Linked DNA regions of Homo sapiens. The protein of the gene in region 1 interacts with the protein of each later gene in a pairwise test. Each region holds a gene or a part of one and is shown in the gene's direction. Other genes may lie near its edges. The genes, in order: ZNF829, YJU2 and PPT1.

What was found.
Region 2: the proteins of ZNF829 (region 1) and YJU2 interact in binary tests that used the Homo sapiens proteins (3 or more experiments, as listed by UniProt).
Region 3: the proteins of ZNF829 (region 1) and PPT1 interact in binary tests that used the Homo sapiens proteins (3 or more experiments, as listed by UniProt).

The regions. Positions count from the first base shown.
Region 1 is NC_000019.10:36,892,273-36,899,380, reverse strand, and holds part of ZNF829 (zinc finger protein 829), read left to right. Parts: intron 1-6,162; exon of another isoform or gene 6,163-6,563; intron 6,564-6,909; coding exon 6,910-7,108. UniProt on the Homo sapiens protein: May be involved in transcriptional regulation.
Region 2 is NC_000019.10:4,257,012-4,264,119, forward strand, and holds part of YJU2 (splicing factor YJU2), read left to right. Parts: intron 1-1,230; coding exon 1,231-1,412; intron 1,413-4,982; coding exon 4,983-5,103; intron 5,104-7,108.
Region 3 is NC_000001.11:40,080,154-40,087,261, reverse strand, and holds part of PPT1 (palmitoyl-protein thioesterase 1 isoform 1 precursor), read left to right. Parts: intron 1-6,774; coding exon 6,775-6,865; intron 6,866-7,108. UniProt on the Homo sapiens protein: Has thioesterase activity against fatty acid thioesters with 14 -18 carbons, including palmitoyl-CoA, S-palmitoyl-N-acetylcysteamine, and palmitoylated proteins. In contrast to PPT2, PPT1 can hydrolyze palmitoylated proteins and palmitoylcysteine.

The DNA.
Region 1 (7,108 bases):
CTTGAACTCCCAGGCTCAAGTGATTCTACCACCTCAGCCTCCTAAGTAGCTAAGACTGCAGGTGCATGCCACTATACCTAGCTAATTTTAAAACTGTTTATAGAGATCGGGGGGGGTCTCCCTATGTTCCCCAGGCTGGTCTTGAACTCCTGGCCTCAAGTGATCCTCCTGACTTGGCCTCCCAATGTGCTGGGATTACAGTTATGAGCCGCTATGGCACTGCTATTAAGTTTTTTTGCTTCCTTGTTAATTCTGGATATTAGTCCCTTCTCAGGTGAAGAGTTTGCAAATATTTTCTCCCATTCTACAGGTCTCTTCACTCTGCTGATTGTTTCCTTTGCTGTGCAGAAGCATTTTAGTTCAATATAGTCCAATTTGTCTATTTTTTTGTTGTTGCCCCTTATTGAAAATATCTTTGAGGTCTTATCTAAAATATATTTGCCTATTCTTCTGAAGTGTTTCCCCTATGTTTTCCTGCAGTAGTTTTATAATTTGGGGTCTTATAGTTAAGTATTTAATTCATTTTGAGTTTATTTTTGTATATGGTGAGAGATACAGTCTAGTTTCATTCTTCACTATATGGATAACCAGTTTTCCCAGCACCATTTATTGAACAGCGTGTCCTTTTCCCTATGTCTGTTCTTGGCACCTTTGTCAACCATCAGTTGACTATAAATACATGGATTTATTTGTGGGTTCTCTCTTCTGTTCCATTGGTCTTTGGGTCTATTTTTATGACAGTACCATGCTGTTTTGGTTACGACAGCTTTGTAGTATATTTTGAAGTTTGATTCTTCCACTTTTGTTCTTTCGCTACAGATTGCATTGGCTATTTGGCATTTTTTATGGTTTCCTACAAATTTTAGGATTTTTTTTCCTGTTCATGTAAAAACTGACTGGCATTTCAGTCGGGATTGCATTGAATCTGTAGATTGCATTGAATCTGTAGATTGCTTTGGGAAGTATGTTCATTTTAACAATAGTTCTTCCAGTGCATAAGCATGCAAATATCTTTTTATTTGTTTGTTGTCTTCAATTTCTTTTGTCTGTGTTTTGTAGTTTTCCTTACAGAGGTCTTTCACTTCATGGTTAAATTTATTTCTAGGTTGTTTTTTGTAGCTATTATATTAATAAATGGGATTGTTTTCTTGATTTCTTTTTCAGCTAATTCATTATTGTGGATGTATAGAAATCCTTTTTTTTTCCCTTTTTGAGACAGAGTTTTGCTCTGTCTCCCAGGCTGGAGGAGTGCAATGGCATGATCTCAGCTCTCTGCAGCTTCCACCTCCTGGGTTCAAGCAGTTCTGCCTCAGCCTCCCACGTAGGTGGGACCACAGGTGCCTGCCACCACACCTGGCCAATTTTTGTATTTTTAGTCAAGACAAGGTTTCACCATGTTGGCCAGGCTGGTCTCAAACTCGTGACCTCAAGTGATCCACCCACCTCGGCCTTCCAAACTGCTGGGATTATAGGCGTGAGCCACCGTGCCCAGCGTACTACTTATTTTTGTATATTGATTTTGTATCTTGCAACTTTACTGATTTCATTGATCAGTTCCAAGAATTTCTGGTGGCATCTTTAGGTTTTTAAATATATGTAAGATCATGTCATCTGTAAAGGGACAGTGTGACTTTCTATTATCCAATCTGGATGCCTTTTATTTCTTTCTCTTGCCTGATTGCTCTGGATAGGACTTCCAGTACTATATTGAATAATAGTGGTGAATGTGGGCTTCTTTATCTTGTTCCAGTTCTTAGAGGAAAAGCTTTCGGCTTTTCCCCATTCAGTATGGTGTTAGCTGTACGTTTGTCATATATGGTCTTTATTATGTTATGTTTTTTAATGCCTAATCGTTGAGAGGTTTTTATAATGAAGAGACGTTGAAGTTTATCAGATGTTTCTCTGCATCTATTGAGCTGATCATATGGTTTTTATCCCTCATCCTGTTGATCTGATACATCATGTTTATTGATTTGCTTATGTTGAGCCATCCTTGCACTTTTCAGGAAAAATCTCACTTAATCGTTGTATATTATCTTGTTGTTGTATTATTGGATTTCATTTGCTAGTATTTCATTGAGGGGTTTTGTGTCTATGTTCATGAGGGATATCACCTCTTTTTGTTGTTGTTGTTGTGTCCTTCTCTGGTTTTGGTATCAGGGTAATGCTGGCCTTGTAGAATGGATTAGGAAGAATTAACTTCTCTTCCATTTTTTGGAATAGTTTGAGAAAAACTGAGGTTAGTTATTTGTAATTTTGGTAGGATTCAGCAGTAAAGCCCTTTAGTCTTGGGCTTTTTTTGTTGGGAGACATTTTACTATTGCTTCAATCTCATTACTCGTTATTGGTCTGCTCAGGTTCTTCTGCTCTGTTTCTTCCTGGTTCAGTCTTGGTAGGTTTTCATGTATCCAGGAATTTTTCTGTTTCCTCTAGGTTATCTGATTTGTTAGCATATAGTTGCCTGTAGTAGTCTTTGATGATCTTTAATTTCTTAATTGACCCAATGGGCATTCATGAGCAAGCACATTGTTTAAATTTCCATTTATTTGTGTGGTTTACAAAGTTTTTGTTATTGATTTCTAGTTTTATTCTAGTGTAGTCTGAGAAGATACTTGATATGATTTCAATTTTTAAAAATTAGTTATAACTTGTCTTATGGCCTAACGTATGGTCTCTTCCTGGAGGATGTTCCATGTGCTGATAGGAACAATGTGTATTCTGCAGCTGTTGGATAAAATGTTCAGTTAGTGTCTGGTAGGTCCATTTGGTCTAATATCCAGTTTAAATCCAAAGCTGTTGATTTTCTATCTAGATGAACTGTCTAATGCTGAGAGTGGGATGTTCAAATCCCGTACTATTATTTTATGGGAGTCTACCTTTTTTTGTTGTTGTTTTTTTGAGACAGAGTCTAGTTCCGTCGCCCAGGCTGGAGTGCAGTGGCACAATATTGGCTCACTGCAACCTCTGCCTCCCAGGTTCAAGCAATTCTCCTGCCTCAGCCTCCTGAGTAGCTCGGATTACAGGTGCATGCCACCACGCCCAGCTAATTTTTTTTTCTTTCTTTTTTTTTTTTTGACAGTCTTGCTCTGTCACCCAAGCTGGAGTGCAGTGGTGCGAACCCGGCTCACTTCAGGCTCCGTCTCCCAGGTTCACACCATTCTCCTGCCTCAGCCTCCCGAGTAGGTGGGACTACAGGTGCCTGCCACCATGCCTGGCTAATTTTTTGTATTTTTAGTAGAGACGAGGTTTCACCATGTTAGCCAGGATGGTCTCAATCTCCTGACCTCGTGATCTGCCTGCCTCAGCCTCCCAAAGTGCTGGGATTACAGGCATGAGCCACCGCGCCTGGCCACACCCAGCTAATTTTTGTATTTTTAGTAGAGACAGGGTTTCGTCATGTTGGGAAGGCTGGTCTCGAACTCCTGACCTCAAGTGATCCTCCCGCCTTGGCCTCCCAAAGTGTTGGGATTACAGGCATGAGCCACCATGCCCAGCCCTATCTCTCTTTTTAGATCTAATAATATTTGCTTATATATCTGGGTGCTGCAGTGTTGAGTGCCTATAAATTTAGAACTTTATATCCTCTGGCTGAATTGACCCATTTATCATTATATAATGACCTTCTTTGCTTCTTTTGCAGTTTTTTACTTAATGTCTGTTTTATTTAAGTATGGCTACTCTCACTTGCTTTTGGTTTGTTTGTGTGCAGTATTTTTTTTTCATCTCTTCACTTTCAGTCTATGATTTTATATATAAAGTGAGTTTCTCACAGCCAGTATATAGGTGAGTCATATTTATTTTATCCATTCAACCAGACTGTATCTTTTAAGTGGGGAATTTGACTGTTTACATTCAAGGTTATTATTAATAGGTGAGGATTTATTCCTAATCTGTTAATTTTTTATGGTTGTTTTATATCCTTTTTCTTTCCTCTTATCATTTGGTTTGGTGGTTTTATGTAATGGTTACATCTGAGTCCTTTCTCTTTCCATTTGTGTATCTGCTCTACCAGTGAGCTTCTTATTTTCATTTGTTTAATGATGGTAGATATGTCTTTTACTTCCAGATGTAGGACACCCTTTGCCATTTTTGATCGGGCCACCCTAGTTGTGATACATTTTCTCTGGGAAAAACTTTCTCCTTCATTTTTGAAGGATGGCTTTGCTAGGTACAGTATTCTTGGCTGACAGTGTTTTTTTAGCACTTTGAATATATCATCCCATTCTTTCCTGGCATGGAAGGTTTCTGCCAAGGTATCTGCTACTAGTTCTGATGAGGGTTCCCTTGTATGTGACTTGACGCCTGAGGGTTCCCTTATATGTGACTTGATGCCTTTCTCTTGCTTTTTTTAGAATTCTCTGTCTTTGACTTTTGACAGTTTGACTGTAATGGGCCTTGGAAAACCTTTTTGGATTGAATCTATTTGGGCATCATTGAGCCTTCTGTATCAGGATGTCTATATTGCTTACAAGACTTGGAAAGTTTTCAGTTATTTTGTTAAATAGGTTTTTATGCCTTTGCCCATCTCTTCTCCTAGAATACCCAAAATTTGAATATTTGGTTGCTTTATGATGTCCCATATGTCATCTAAGCTTTTTTCAGTTTTAAAAATTATTATTTTTTACTTTTTCTTCCTGGATTCTTTTAAAAAACCCTGTCCTCAAGTTCAGAAATTCTTTCTTCTGCTTGATCTAGTCTATTGTTGAAGCTCTCAATTGTGTTTTTTATTTCATTCATTGAAATTTGTCAGTTTCAGGACTTCTGTTTGGTTCTTTTTCATGATATCTATCTGCTGAATTTCTCATTCAGATCATGAATTGTTTTTTCTGATTCTTTTGGTTTTTATCCATGTTCTATTGTTTCCCACTGAGCTTCTTTAATATCATTATTTTGAATTCTTTTTCAGGCACTTGATAGATTTCTTGTTTGTTGGAATCTGTTGCTGGAGCATTATTGTATTACTTTGGAGATGTCATGGTTCCATGCTTTTTCGTGTTTCTTTTATCCTTACATTGATATCTGTGTATTTCTTGTTATGGTCATTTTTTCCAATTTTATGGATTTGTTTTCATAAGGAAAACCTTTTTCCTGTAGATGTATTTATAGTGTTGGTTGGGTAGGTTGCTTTGGCTTTGTTATAGGTGGATGCAGTGGTATAATCTCCATATGATTTCTCTGGCTGCAATCAGTGTCAGCAGTGTCTGTGAGTTCCTCAGTGGCTTAGGGCTTGGTTGTTAGTGGAAGCTGTGATGAGGCTTTTCTCATTGTTAGCAGGGCCAACAATGGTGATAGGATGAGGGGTATGCCAGGTAAAGGGGAGATCCATGTGGGAAGGCCCTGAGGGGCAGGGAGAACTTGAGGTGCTTGAAGGACTGGGGCTTCTTGAGCAAGTGGAAGTGGAGTATAACACAAGGTTGTAGAGGTAGGCAAGAGCCTCATTATTGGAGTCTTCTTGGTAATTACCAAGGAGTTTAGATTTTCAGGAGGGCAAAGTGAGACCAAATATCACACCAGGTGCTGAATGGATTAGAGGGTGCTAGAACATACTGGGGAAACCATTAGGAGATTCCTGTAGTGGTCTAGGAAAGAGGGGATTCAGTAATTAAATGAGGACAACTTTAAGAGATTTTTAGGGACTCACCCAGACTAAGTTTGGCCAATGATTGTGTGGAGGGAATACTTAAGATAGTCTAGCTGGCTTTATTTTGATGTCTTCAAGCCATTTTATTTGCCCAATATCTGTTTTTGCTATGACATTTTTTCATAATAATAGCTACCAATACTGAGTGCTTACTTTATATCAGATTATTTATATACGTTATTCCTCATCTTTTTAGCAATCATAAGTTAAGTGTCAGTCCCATTTTAATAAACAAGGAAAAGAGGGCTCAGAGGTTGCCTTAAAGCATAGAACTGGGGCTCACTGTTTATATGTTGACATGGAGTTCCATTCTTCTCATAGAGTACATTTCATCCTATCTTAACTCTCTTGTGTCTCAAACTTGAGCCACCTTCCTTCTCAATCACTGCTATGACTTGAATTATTCATTTCTTTCTCCCAAGGTCAACATCACAGAATTCCAGAGCAAATTATTTTCAGTGAGTTCCTAGCCCATATCATGCTGTATGCACAGAAGAGATGTACCTGTCTACTCTTCCCACCAGTTGTGTTCAGCATATTAGATTTGTCGGAGGCTGGTGATTTGCCAGTATACCATTGCACAGTCACTGAACTCCACCCGCCCCCGACATTTAAACCTTTCAACACATTTGTTATTCTTAACAGTCCTTTCATGTAGGTCTGACAGTTATCTACGAATTGCAAAACATACAGTATCATACTCTGTGCATGTGAGCATATGTTTATGAACGTGTATATAATTAGAATATCTCACGCATGGTGCATGCCCTGGAGCAGAAGCGGCATCCTGCTGGCCTGTCCTCCTCCATGGCCCTCCAGCTTAACCCCTGCCTGGGCATGCTGATGGCCTTGCAGTCGGAGCTCCACAAGCTGTACGACGAGGAGACACAGAGCTGGGTCTCAGGCAGCGCCTGTGGGGGATCTGGGGTGGGGGCAAAAAAAATTTTTTTTTTTTAATTAGAATCTCTCTATAATATGGAGGATGGTGCTGAACACTGTGTATTCACCAAGGCTTAAGGTGACTCTGGTTCAGACCAAAATTTGAGGATCATAGAGGTCATCTACTTTCTGAATCCACATCCTCAGCTTCTTTTATTACCTCTCCTAATGTCTGTGCTTTTCTTGTCAGTTTTACAGATTGCCTCTCCACCTTTGAAAACTGTGTAATTTCTCAGATATTCTTTTCAGTTTAATTCTCCCATTTCTTTTTTAGAAGTTTTAACTTGCCCAGAATAGGAAAATTTATTTGCCTTTGTATTTTCTTTCAGATCTGGAATCAATGTGTGAGACCAAAATATTATCTCTAAAGAAGAGACATTTCAGTCAAGTAATAATTACCCGTGAAGACATGTCTACTTTTATTCAGCCCACATTTCTTATTCCACCTCAAAAAACTATGAGTGAAGAGAAACCATGGGAATGTAAGATATGTGGAAAGACCTTTAATCAAAACTCACAATTTATCCA
Region 2 (7,108 bases), about 33 Mb from region 1:
GTTTGTGGACATACTTTTAAACTGTCAGAATTGCCATTTTTCCAAAGGGTAAATACAACAAGGTCACAGCACTGGGAAGCAGCCAGGCAGGATTCACTCCCAACCTGCCTGGCTCCAAAGCCACTTCTCAGGGACCCGTGGCCACCAGACTCGCCTCCCTCAGCCTCAGTTTCCGTTTCTGTAAAATGGGGGTTGTGAGGATTAAATGAGATGGCATATGGAAACCTCTTAGCCCAGGGCCCGGTGTACAGTAGGTGCTCAGGTTGTCTTTTACAATTTTTCCTTAATATTATTATTTTTGAGATAGAGTCTCGCTCTGTCACCCAAGCTGGAATGCATTGGCACGATCTGAGCTCAGTCAACCTCTGCCTCCTGGGTTCAAGTGATTCTCCTGCCTCAGCCTCCCAAGTAGCTGGGATTACAGGTGTGTGCCACCACGCCTGGATAATTTTTGTATTTTTATTATTTATTTATTTTTTTGAGATGGAGTCTCACTCTGTCACCCAGGTTGGAGTCCAGTGGTGCAATCTTGGTTCACTGCAACCTCTGCCTCCCGGGTTCAAGCAATTCTCCTGCCTCAGCCTCCCAAGTAGCTGGGATTACAGGCACATGCCACTACGCCCAGCTACTTTTTGTATTTTTAGTAGAGATGGGGTTTCGTCATGTTGGCCAGGCTGGTCTTGAACTCCTGACCTCAAGTGATCTGTCTGCCTCGGCCTCCCAAAGTGCTGGGATTACAGGCGTGACCCATAACACCCAGCCTGTATTTTTAGTAGAGACAGGGTTTCACCATGTTGGCCAGGCTGGTCTCGAACTCCTGATCTCAGGTGATCCGCCCGCTCCGGCCTCCCAAAATGCTGGGATTACAGACGTGAGCCACTGTGCCTGGCCAAATTTTTCCTTATTATTCTTACTGAAAGATGGCACCAGGCCAGAAATCCAGGCCACCTGGGTCCAGAGCCAGCCTCTTTCCACCCCACCCTGCCCCAGGGCTCAGATCCCGGCTCCACCACTGCTCAGCCCCATGTGGTCACTTTCCCTCCCCAGACCTGAGTGTTCTCACCTGTGAAATGGACACAGCGCTGGGCATGGGCAGGGGGTTCCCTGAGCAGGATGGAAACGTGGGGGTAGGGGTTCCTCCCGTGGCCCGCAGTGGCCCCCGAGGCCAGACAGGGTTTGCCCCGTGGTGCGATCCCCATGCACTCAGCCCCGCCGCCCCGCGCCCGCCAGGTGCTGGAGAACCGGACCAAGGACTCCAAGCTGGAGATGGAGGTGCTGGAGAACCTCCAGGAGCTGAAAGACCTGAACCAGCGGCAGGCGCACGTGGACTTCGAGGCTATGCTGAGGCAGCACCGCCTGTCGGAGGAGGAGCGGCGGAGGCAGCAGCAGGAGGAGGACGAGCAGGAGACCGCGTGAGTCAGGGCCGGCCCAACCCAGCCCCACCTCGCAGCCTCTGCCCCGGCAGGCGCTGCCTCTGCCCCAGACCCTTTCCCCGCTCTCTGGAGTGTCGCCTTTGCAAGGACCCCTTTCCCACCGCCCATCTCACTTTCTCCCTTGTGGCGTCTCTCGAGGGGGTCCCAGGCCACTGCCGGGCACGGTGACTTAGCACGTGGTCGCCCGCATGGCTGCGGTTTGTCACAGCGAGAGGACACAGCAGATTCAGCAAAGGGGAAAGGCATGTGTGGTGTGTCGGGGGCCAGGCCTTCCAGATCCTCTCCTGGTGGAGCTTCGCAGGACGCGCCTCATCCCCTAGCACCAGCCTGGAGGACTCGAGAAAGGCGCCATCACTAGGGAAGCTCCTAGAGACCCAGCGTGGGGTTCCTATGGGGCCTGGTCCCACAGCCCCCGCTGCCTCACCCATGCCGGGATTCCAGACTCCAGAGGAAAGCAGGGGTCACGCATAAACCATGGTGTTTGCAGGAACAGCTGAAGCCCCAGAGCCCGTCCCATCCATGAGGGTGGGAGGCCCCCAGCACAGGCTCCCGGACACCCACCAAGGGACGCCCTCACCAGCCGCCTTCTGAGGACACAGCCTCAGGCCTCCTGGGTGAACACTTTTCTTTTTTTTTTTTTTTTTTTTTTTTTTTTTGAGACGGAGTCTCCCTCTGCTGCCCAGGCTGGAGGGCAGTGGCGCCATCTCGCTCACTGCAAGCTCCGCCTCCCGGGTTCATGCCATTCTGCCTCAGCCTCCCGAGTAGCTGGGATTAGAGGCATCCGCCACCAAGCCCGGCTAATTTTTTGTAATTTTTAGTAGAGATGGGGTTTCACCGTGTTAGCCAGGATGGTCTCGATCTCCTGACCTCGTGATCCGCCCGCCTCGGCCTCCCAAAGTGCTGGGATTGCAGGCGTGAGCCACCGCGCCCGGACGACGCTTTTCTTTTTCTTTGAGACGGGGTTTTGCTCTGCCGCCCAGGCTGGAGTGCAGTAGTGCAGTCATAGCTCACTGTAGCCTCCATCTCCCGGGCTCAAGCGTTCCTCCTGCCTCAGCCTTCTGGGTAGCTGGGACCACAGGGACACATCACCATGCCCAGCTAATTGTTTTTATTTCTGTAGAGACAGGACCTCGCTATGTTGGACAGGCTGGTTTTGAACTCCTGGCCTCAAGCGATCCTCCCACCTTAGTCTCCTGAAGTGCTGGATGACACGTGTGAGCCCCTGTGGTTGGCTGGTGAATGCCTTTGACGCCGACCACCTCTGAGCCCGCGTGCTGATCCCCTCCTTTCCTGGTGCCTCATCTCCCCTCCCTCCTTTAGAATCTGAGCTGTAAGGACAGGGACGTGGTGGCCTCTCCTGTGTCCCCAGGGCTTCCAGCAGGTAGGTTCTGGTAGGTTCCACGTCAGTGCCTGATGGGTGTGCAGAGCAGCGATACCGTGCAGAACAGTGTTGGGAGCCTGCGTTCATCCTGCACCTTCCGGGTGCCGGGCGTGGCTGTAACCTCACTACCCACACAGCCCTGGGGGTCAGTGTGATCTTCATCATGGAGGGGACTGAGGTCCAGGGAGGTCCAGGCATGAGCCCCACCAAGGTTACCCTCCAGGCTCCATCCAGACAGGCTGGTTCCGGCATCCAGGCACTTAACCACACCACTGCCCTCGGTGGACACGGAAAAGTTAATGTAAAAAAGTAGAAGGGGCCGGGCGCAGGGTCTCCTGCCTGCCATCCTGCACTGTGGGAGGCTGAGGCGGGCGGATCACCTGAGGTCAGCAGTTCGAGACCAGCCTGGCCAACATGGCGAAACCCCATCTGTACTAAAAATACAAAAACAAATTAGCTGGGCGTGGTGGCAGATGCCTGTAATTCCAGCTGCTCCAGAGGCTGAGACAGGAGAATTGCCTGAACCCGGGAGGCAGAGGTTATAGTGAGCCGAGATGGTGCCACTGAACTCCAGCCTGGGCGACAGAGCAAGATTCCTCCTAAAAAAAATGAAAATTAAAAAGTAGACTAGGTGCGGTCGGTGGCTCACGCCCGTAATCCCAGCACTTTGGGAGGCTGAAGTGGGCGTATCACCTGAGGTCAGGAGTTCGAGACCAGCCTGGCCAAGATGGTGAAACCCCGTCTCTACTAAAACTACAGAAATTAGCTGGACATGGTGGTATGTGCCTGTAGTCCTAGCTAACATTTTTAATTTTTTTAGAGACGGGGTCTCGCTATGTTGCCCAGGCTGGTCTCTAACCCCTGGCTCAAGCGATCCTCCCGTCTCAGCGTCCCAAAGAGCTGGGATGACAGGCATGAGCCACTGCATCTGGCCCCTTTAATCTGTTTTATGTTTAAATAGAGGAAGTGGTAACCACTGGGTTAAGGAAGTCCCAATGGGTGCTCTGCCCTCACGGAGCTCACTGTGTGGGGAGGGAGAGGGACAAGGAGACCAATACCCAGGACAACATCCATCTGGGTGAGAGAGAAGCCAGGATGCGTGAGCTTGAATTATGAGGATGAGCTTCTCAGAGGAAGAGCGTCTTGCATTGGGTATTGAAGGTCGAGTAGGAGTTCACCAAGCGAGTGCTTGGCAAAGGGGTCATCCCAGGTAAGGGGATGTAGGCCCCTGATTTTTAAAATCCTTTTTGCAGAGATGCGGTCTTGCTGTGTTGCCCAGGCTGGTCTCATGCTCCTGGCCTTAAGCATTTCTCCTGCCTTGGCCTCTAAAGGCACAGGGATTACAGACATCAGCCACCATGTCTGGCCCCAAGACATTTTTCTAAAAGACATTTTCTTTGAAGCTATATCCCCTGATTAGAGTTCTCACACTGTGGTTCTCACATAAACCACTCCCAGAATTAGAGACCGGCCTGGCCAAGATGGCGAAACCCCGCCTCTACTAAAAATACAAAAATTAGCTGGACACGGTGGTGCGTGCCTGTAGTCCTAGCTGCTCGGTAGGCTGAGGCTGGAGAATCGCTTGAACCCAGGAGGCGGAGGTTGCAGTGAGCCAAGATCACGCCACTGCACTCCAGCCTGGACAACAAAGACTCCATCTCAAAAAAGAAAAAAAAAATACAAAAATTAGCCGGGTGTGGTGGCAGGCACCTGTAATCCCAGGTACTTGGGAAGCTGAGGCAGGAGAATCGCTTCAACCTGGGAGGTGGGGGTTGCAGTGAGCCAAGATTGCGCCACTGCACTCCAGCCTGGGCAACAGAGCGAGACTCTGTCTCAAAAATAAAATGAAATAAAATTTAATAAGGCATAGGAACACGCCTGTGGACCCAGCTACTCAGGAAGCTGAGTGGGGAGGATCGCTTGAGCCCAGGAGGTTGAGGTTGCAGTGAGCTGTGATTGTGCCACTTCACCCTCCCTGAGTGACAGAGTGAGACCTTGTCTCTTAAAAAAAAAAAGTAATCTGTGCTCCCCCTACTCCCTCCCACCCCTGCTCACTGAGGGCAGGAAGAGGTCTCCAGGCACCCAGGCCCCTCGCCACCCCAGCAGGTACATCCCAGGCACTGTTCCCCAAACAGAGCACGTCCAAGTTCCCATCTTCCATCCCACAGGGCCCTGTTGGAGGAAGCCAGAAAGCGAAGACTGCTGGAGGACTCCGACTCAGAGGATGAGGCTGCTCCCTCGCCCCTGCAGCCAGCCCTTCGGCCCAACCCCACCGCCATCCTGGATGAGGTAAGTGGGGTGCCTGAGTCCTGGGGGCTCCCAGGTGAACTAGGGACAACTGAAGCCAGGGGTCAGCTTGACTTTTTCTTTTGTTTTTTGTTTTTGTTTTTTGAGACGGAGTCTCGCTCTGTCGCCTAGGCTGGAGTGCAGTGGCACGATCTTGGCTCACTGCAACCTCTGCCTCCCAGGTTCAAGCGATTCTCCTGCCTCAGCCTCCCGAGTAGCTGGGACTACAGGCACGCGCCACCAAGCCCAGCTAATTTTTTGTATTTTTAGTAGAGATGGGGTTTCACCATGTTGGGAAGGATGGTCTCAATCTCTTCACCTCGTGATCCGCCCGCCTAGGCCTCCCAAAGTGCTGGGATTACAGGCGTGAGCCACCATGCCCGACCAGAACTTGACTTTTTCTTAAAAGGCCAGTCTGCACCCTAACTCCTCCACCCTGTGGCTGTAGCCCAAAACACCCATGATCAGGTGTAAATAAGTGGGTGTTGCCTGGTGCCAATAAATCTTTATTTATAGGCGGGGTGCAGTGGCTCATGCCTGTAATCCCAGCATTTTGGGAGGCCAAGGCAGGAGGATCGCTTGAGGCCGGGAGTTTGAGACCAGCCTGGGCAACAAAGTGAGACCCCTTCTTTACAAAATTACAAAAATTAGTCATGGGTGGTGGTGCATGTCTGTGGTCCCAGCTGTTTGAGAGACTGAGGCAGGAGGACCGCTTGAGCCCAGAAGGTCAAGGCTGCAGTGAGCTGCATCAGTATGACCGAACTCCAGCCTGAGCAAGAGTGAGACCCTGTCTAAAATAAACAAATAAAAATTAAGGCTGAGTGCAGTGGCTCACGCTTGTAATCCCAGCTACTCAGAAGGCTGAGGCAGGAGAATCGCTTGAACCCGGGAGGCGGAGGTTGCAGCGAGCCGAGATCGTGCCACTGCACCCCAGCCTGGGTGACAGAATGAGACTCTGTCTCAAAAAAAAAAAAAAAAAAACTTAATTTACTAAAACTGGTGGCAGGCCTATGGGTCTGTAATTCGCCAACCCCTGTTTAAGCTGCCGAAAGAAGAGAATGTAAAGAAAGAACATAGAAATTTATTTCTCAGTCATAACAGCCCTGGGCTGACAGTCTAGGACTTCGGGCAGCTCTGCTCCTTGGAACCATTCAGGGACTCAGCCTCCTTCCTTCTGGAGCACGGCTTCCTGCGCTGTGGCCACAGCTGGCTCAGAGCACCTTCAGGGTCCGGCTGTGGGAAGGCAAAAAGTGTGTGGAGGACCACGCAGCCTCAGATGCGGCCCACCTCAGTTCTTCTCTCATGCCAGAGGCCACAGCATAGTCACAAGGCCCCATCTGGTGGCGAAGGAAACTGTGAGATGCATCCTCCAGCTGGTCCGTGCCTGGCTGTGCTGCCAACTAGAACGAAGGGAGGCCGGGCACCGTGGCTCAAAGTGCTGTAATCCCAGCACTTTGGGAGGCCGAGGCAGGCGGATCATCTGAGGTCAGGAGTTCGAGACCAGCCTGGCCAACATGGAGAAACCCTGTCTCTACTAAAAATACAAAAATTAGCTGGACATGGCGGTGCCTGCCTGTAATCCCAGTTACTCGGGAGGCTGAGGCAGGAGAATCACTTGAACCTGGGAGGCAGAGGTTGCAGTGAGCTGAGATTGTGCCATTGCCCTCCAGCCTGGGCAACAGAGTGAGACTCTATCTCAAAAAAAAAAAAAAAAAAAAGGAGGAAGGAGTTTTGGTGGATGACCAGCATTTTCCACCACAGCTGACTCATCCAAGGTGGCCTCAGCCACTCTGGTTTGTTCATTGAAGAAGGTGGTAAAAGTAGGGGCTCATAAACCAATAACACAGACACACAGAAACGATTGTTCTCGGCCGGGCGCGGTGGCTCACACCTGTAATCCCAGCACTTTGGGAGGCCAAGGCGGGTGGATCACGAGGTCAGGAGATCGAGATCATCCTATCTAACACGGTGAAACCCCATCTCTGCTAAAAATACAAAAAATTAGCCG
Region 3 (7,108 bases), on another chromosome or scaffold:
CAAAAAATAAAAATAAAAAATACTGATTAAAAGCTATAGATTGATGTGTTTATCTTCACTTCCTCCTTAAACTTTAATTAAGTGGTAGCAGAAGAATAAAAAGTGATAAACCCACAAGGGCAGAGAGAACAGGGAGAGAGGAGGTAAGAGATCATAAAAAATGGCAACATGTTTTTGAAAGCAAGCAAGCAGATGAATGAGTGTGAGAACTGTTTTAGCAGAGCAGATGGTGAAGGCTTAAAGTAATAAAGAGAAATCATTTTGTCTTTGTGATACTGTCCCAGGTTGCCCCTGGTATTAGGGAGGATTAATTCTGGTTGCAAGAAGAAACCCATATCAAGCCAAAGTAAATTTTAAAAGAAAGTAATACTCTGTTGGTGCCTAAAGCCTCATAGGGCCTAGAATCAAGAATTGGGAGCCATGAGGAGCCAGGGTATTCTCTCTCCAGTGCCATTGTTGCTTCTCTCTCTGTGTCGCTGCTTCTTTCTCTCCATGCAGACCAGCTTCCCCTGCCACCCACATGATGGAAGGTGGCCTCGCACGGCTTCCAAATGTTTAATTTTCTGTTAGGAGATTGTCTCAGTCTGAGGCTAGACTCTCTTTGTCCCGATTCAGATTCTTCAGGAAGGGACCATGCCCCAGCTCAGGTCAGGTCTCCCCCTCTGCTCTCATTAGCTGTGGCCAGAGAAGTGGGACCGTGCTTACTAACCATACCCCACCTCCCTGTAAACCAGTAGGCCGGGCAGGAAGAGTGCAAGAGAGGCAGAGACCCCAAAAGATGTCTTCCACATTCTTCAGATAACTTAACCTTAGCAAAGCAAACGTGATATCCTAATACGCACAGTAACTGGTGGGGAAGCCCCCGGCTTGGCATGGTGAGGGCAACGAGGAATGGTATAATAGTTCTCTCTCTCCTTCCTGGATGTAAAACTACCCTCTAGTTCCCTTTTGCCTTTGCAGATGCTGTCAGCCCTTCCTAGCCTTCTCCTTCCTCCGGTTTGCTCCCTGCCATCCCCTGCCCCACGCTCTACCCTCCTACCTCTACACTCCCTGCCACAATGAATGCTTCAGTGTTGCCCTGGCCTTGGCCTCCGTCTTCCCCCGTACCAGCTCAGAGGAAGCTAGAGCTTTACATATCCTGTTTAATTTTCATAGCAACTTGCCTTCCCCAGGTCTGCTCTGGGCCCCGCTCCCAGTTTGCACCCCACCCTCAGTGGATCTCAGAGTGCTTTTCCTCAATTGTCCAGTTTTCCCATGTCTTTGCCCTCAGCCGATGAACTTGCAACTTGGTTTTCTGGAAATATTAAGGCATCTACTCAGGCTCTCTCAGAGACTTTCAGCCATTCAAAAAAGTTAGAGAGTAATGTAACGAACTACAGGCATACCTCAGAGAAACTGAGGATTTGGTTCTAGACCACCACAATAAAGCAAATATTGTTAATACAGCAAGTCACACAAAGTTGTTGGTTTCCCAGCGCATATAAAAGCTATGTTTACACTATACTGAAGTCTATTAAGTGTGCAGTAGCATCATGCCTAAAAAAAGTACATGCCTTAATTAGAAAATACTTTATTGCTAAAAAATGCTAATCATTTGAGTCTTCAGCAAGTCATCTTTTTGCTGGTGGAGGGTCTTGCCTCGGTGTTGATGGCTGCTGACTGATCAGGGTGGTGGTTGCTGAAGGTTGGGATGTAGGGTCCAGCCCCACAGGGTCGGTGGGTTTTTCTCCCTGTGTGCGGAGATGAGAGATTGTAGAAATAAAGACACAAGACAAAGAGATAAAAGACAGCTGGGCCCGGGGGACCACTACCACCAAGACGTGGAGACTGGTAGCGGCCCCGAATGCCAGGCTGCGCTGATATTTATTGGATACAAGACAAGGGGGGCAGGGTAAGGAGTGTGAGCCATCTCCCATGATAGGTAAAGTCACATGGGTCACGTGTCCACTGGACAGGGGGCCCTTCCCTGTTTGGCAGCCGAGGTGGGGAGAGAGAGAGAGAAAGACAGCTTAGGCCATTATTTCTGCATATCAGAGACTTTTAGTACTTTCACTAATTTTGCTACTGCTATCTAAAAGGCAGAGCCAGGTGTACAGGATGGAACATGAAAGCAGGCTAGGAACATGACCACTGAAGCACAGCATCACAGGGAGATGGTTGGGCCTCCGGATAACTGCAGGCGGGCCTGACTGATGTCACGCCCTCCACAAGAGGTGGAGGAGTAGAGGCTTCTCTAAACTCCCCCGGGGAAAGGGAGACTCCCTTTCCCAGTCTGCTAAGTAGTGGGTGTTTTTCCTTGGCACTGACGCTACCACTAGACCACGGTCCGCTTGGCAACGGACATCTTCCCAGACGCTGGCATTACCGCTAGACCAAGGAGCCCTCTAGTGGCCCTGTCCGGGCATGACAGAGGGCTCACACTATTGTCTTCTGGTCACTTCTGAGCATGTCCCTTCAGCTCCTATCTCTGTATGGCCTGGCTTTTCCTAGGTTATGATTGTAGGGCAAGGATTATTATAATATTGGAATAAAGAATAATTGCTACAAACTAATGATGAATGGTATTCATATATAATCATGTTTATGATCTAGGTCTAGGATAACTCTTGTTGTTTTATATATTTTATTATACCGGAACAGCTCATGCCCTCGGTCTCTTGCCTCGGCACCTGGGTGGCCTGCTGCCCACATTGGGGTGGCTGTGCTAATTTCTTAAAGTGAGACAATGATGAACTTTGTATCAGTTGACTCTTCCTTTCATGAAAGATTTCTTTGTAGCATGCGATGCTATTTGGTAGCATTTTGGCCACAATAGAACATCTTTCAGAACTGGAGTCAATCCTCAAACCCTGCCGCTGCTTTTATGTAAGCTTATGTAATATTTATTCTAAATCCTTTGTTGTCGTTTCATCAGTGTTCACAGCATCTTCACCAGGAGTAGATTCCATCTCAAGAAGCCACTGTTTTGCTCATCCGTAAGAAGCAATTCCTTATCTGTTTTTTGAGATTGCAACAATTCAGTCACATCGTCAGGTTCCACTTCTAATTCTAGTTCTCCTGCTATTTCCACATCTGCAGTTACTTCCTTCATTGAAGTCTTGAATCCCTCAGCCATTCATGAGGGTTGGAATCAACTTCTTTTAAATTCCTGATAATACTGATATTTTGACCTCTTCCCGTGAATCATGAATTTTTGTTTGTTTGTTTTTGAGACAGAGTCTCACTCTGTCACCCAAGTTGGAGTGCAGTGGTGCCATTACAGCTTACTGCAACATAGCCTCAACCTCCCAGGCTCAAGCAATCCTCCCACCTCAGCGTCCTGAGCAGCTGGGACTACAGGTGTGAGCCACTACACCCCACTAATTTTTTAATTTTTTTGTAGAGATAGGATCTCATTTATGTTGCCCAGGCTAGTCTCACACTCCTGGGCTCCACTGATTTTCCCTCCTCACCCTCCCAAAGTGCATGGTACCCAGCCCGTTAATGTTCTTAATGGCATCTAGAATGATAAATCCTTTCCATCAGGTTTTCCGTTTACTTTGCCCAGATGCATCAAAGGGATCACTGTCTATGCAGCTACAACCTTGTAAATGTATTTCTTAAATAATAAGACTTGAAAATTGAAATTACTACTTGATCCATGGGCTGTAGAATGGATGTGCTGTGGCAGGCATGAAGACAACATTAATCTCTTTGTACATCTCCATCAGAGCGCTTGGGTGACCAGGTGCTTTTTAATGAGCTGTAATATTTGTTTGTTTTTTGAGTTTGTTTTTAAACTTTTTTTAATTAAAAAAAATAGTTTTTGAGACAGGGTTGTGCTCTCTTGCCCAGACTAGAGTGCAGTGGTGTGATCACAGCTCACTGCAGCCTTCACCTCCTGGACTCAAGCCATCCTCCCACTTCAGCCTCCTGAGTAGCTAGGACTACAGGCATGCACCGCCATGCTCGGCTACTTTTAAAAAGAATTTTCTTTTCTAGAGGTGGGGTCTTGCTATGTTGCCCAAGCTAGTCTTGAACTCCTGGCCTCAAATGGTCCTCCTACCTTGGCCTCCCAAAGTGCTGGCATTGTAGGTATGAGCCACCATGCCCAGCTGCGTGGTAATGTTTTGAAAGGAATCTTTTTTTCTGAGCAATAGGTCTCAACAGTGGGCTTAAAATAGTCAGCAAACCACACTGTAAACAGATCTGCTGTCATCCAGGCTTTGTGTTCCATTTGTAGAGCACAGGCAGAGTAATTTAGCGTAGTTCTTAAGGGCCCTAGGATTTAAAAAATGGTAACCCAGCATTGGCTTCAGCTTCAAGTCATCAGCTCCATGAGGCACTCACAAGAGAGTCAGCCTGTCCTTTGAAGTTTTGAAGCCAGGCATTGACTTCTCCTCTATAGCTGTGAAAGTCCTAGATGGCATCTTCTTCCAATTTAAGACTGTTTCACCTACACTGAAAATTTGTTGTTTATGGTCGCCACCTTCATTAAGTATCTTAGCTAGATCTCCTGGATAACTTACTGCAGCTTCTACATCAGCACTTGCTGCCCCATCTTGCACTCCTGTGTTATGGAGATGGTTTCTTTCCTTGAACCTTACAAACCAACCTCTGCTAGCTTCACACTTTTTTTCTGCAGCTTCCTCACCTCTCTCAGCCTTCATTGAATTGAAGAGAGTTAGGACGTTGCTCTGGATTAGGCTTTGGCTTAAGGGAATGTTGTGGCTGGTTTGGTCTTCTATCTAGACCACTCAGATTTTCTCCATAGCAGCAATAAGACTGTTTTGCTTCCTTATTATTTGTGTGTTCACTGAAATAACACTTCTAATTTTCCTCAGGAACTTTTTTTTTTTTGCATTCTATAAATGTTCAGAGTTCTAAACCTTTAAAAGGTTTCAAATACATGTATAAACACATTCTAGAATGTCACTCTGACTGTTGCTTCCTTTAACTTCAGTCTCATCTGCTCCTGGGAGGGAGAGCTCCATCTCTGACGTAGCTGGCTCTGTTGGGCTTTAGCGCCAGCCTGCTCCACCGAGTGGCGTTTTCAGGACCACTGCCTCTGGGCAGCTCTTCCACTCTGGCTACGGAGCGTATGTTGTAGAAATTTTGATTTCTCTCCCTGCCAACCTGGGATAGAGTTTGTTCGAATTTCCCCATGTGAGGCCTTGGGGTAACCGTGCCCATTTTGAGGAGGTGGGGGCTGGAAGGGAAGAGGAAGTGGAGAGAGATTGGAAAGAAAGTATAAAGAGTCCCCTTTGCTCCAGTTCCCAGCAAGTTCCTCATCTCCATCTGAGACTACCTCAGCCTGGACCTTATTGTCTATATCACTATCAGGCTTTTGGTCAAAGCCATTCAACAAGTCTCTAGAAAGTTCCAAGCTTTCCCACATTTTCCTGTCTTCTTCTGAGGCCTCCAAACTGTGCCAGCCTCTGCCTGTTACCCAGTTCCAAAGTCACTTCCACATTTTGGGTAACTTTTCAGCAGCACCCCACTCTACTGGTACTTATTTACTGTATTAGTCTGTTTTCATGCTACCGATAAAGACATACCCGAGACTGGGCAAATAGAGGTTTATAATGGACTTACAGTTCCATGTGGCTGGGGAAGCCTCACAATCATGGCGGAAGGCGAAAGGCACATCTCACATGACGGTAGACAAAAGAAGAGAGCTTGGGCAGGGAAACTCCCCTCTTAATTTTATTTTCTATTTATTTATTTATTTATTTATTTATTTTTTGAGATGGATTCTCGCTCTGTCTCCCAGGCTGGAGTGCAATGGCGTGATCTTGGCTCACTGCAACCTCAGCTTCCCAGGTTCAAGCGATTCTCCCTCCCTCTGCCTCCCAAGTAGCTGGGATTACAGGCACATGCCACCGTGCCTGGCTAATTTTTGTATTTTTAGTAGAGACGGGGTTTCCTCATGTTGGCCAGGTTGGTTTCGAACTCCTGACCTCAGGCGATCTGCCCGCCTTGGCCTCCCAAAGTGCTGGGATTATAAGCATGAGCCACAGAATCTGGCCCAACTCCCCTCTTTGAAACCATCAGATCTCATGAGACTTATTCACTGTCACGAGAACAGCACAGGAAAGACCCACCCCTGTAATTCAGTCACCTCCCATGACATATGGGAATTGTGGGAGTTACAATTCAAGATGAGATTTGGGTGAGGACACAGCCAAACCATATCAGCATGATAAGTATGATAAACCCCAGTGTCACAGGAGAAGCAAATATTGATGAGTCCTTTGCCTGAATCTTTTATAATTTCTGTACTATGCTGAACAGTCTGTCTCAACAAGGTGTCTTGTTGACAGACTGTTTCCTAGGTGCAAGTCTTGTCTTCTGTATTAAAGGGTAAGGCCTGGGACTTGAGGGCTTTGGCCTTTTGTCCTTGTTTTTTGAGACAGAGTCTCACTCTGTCGCACAGGCTGAAGTGCAGTGCTGCGATCTCAGCTCACTGCAACCTCTGCCGCCGGGGTTCTAGCAGTTCTCCTGCCTCAGCCTCCCAAGTAGCTAGGATTACAGGCGCCTGCCGCCGCGCCTGGCTAATTTTTGTAGTTTTAGTAGAGACGGGGTTTCACCATCTTGGCTAGGCTGGTCTTGAACTCCTGACCTCGTGATCCACCTGCCTCAGCCTCCCAAAGTGCTGGGATTACAGGTGTGAGCCACTGTGCCTGGCTGGCCTTTTGTCCTTTTAAAGTCTCTTGGTGGCCTTTGCACTGAGCATGCCCTGGGCGTACTGACTGACCTGTAGCTTGATCACCTCATTCTTTTTTTTTCCTACAGCCTCGTGCAAGCCGAATACTGGCATGACCCCATAAAGGAGGATGTGTATCGCAACCACAGCATCTTCTTGGCAGATATAAATCAGGAGCGGGTAAGCACCCAAACCGGGCTCCCATAGATGTGCGTTCTTTTTCCTGTTTAGGTCTTCATAAACAAATCAGCAGTGACTGTTTACCCAAACTGTCCTGGGCAGACACTAGGAAAGAGAAGTTCTGTTTTTTTTGGGAGGCAGGGCCTTTGAGATTCAGTTCCCTTTAGGGAGGTTGAAATTCATTTGCCTTTCTTCCCTTAAGTTCTTTCCCTCTCCTAGTGTTGAAACACACAGGATAAGCTC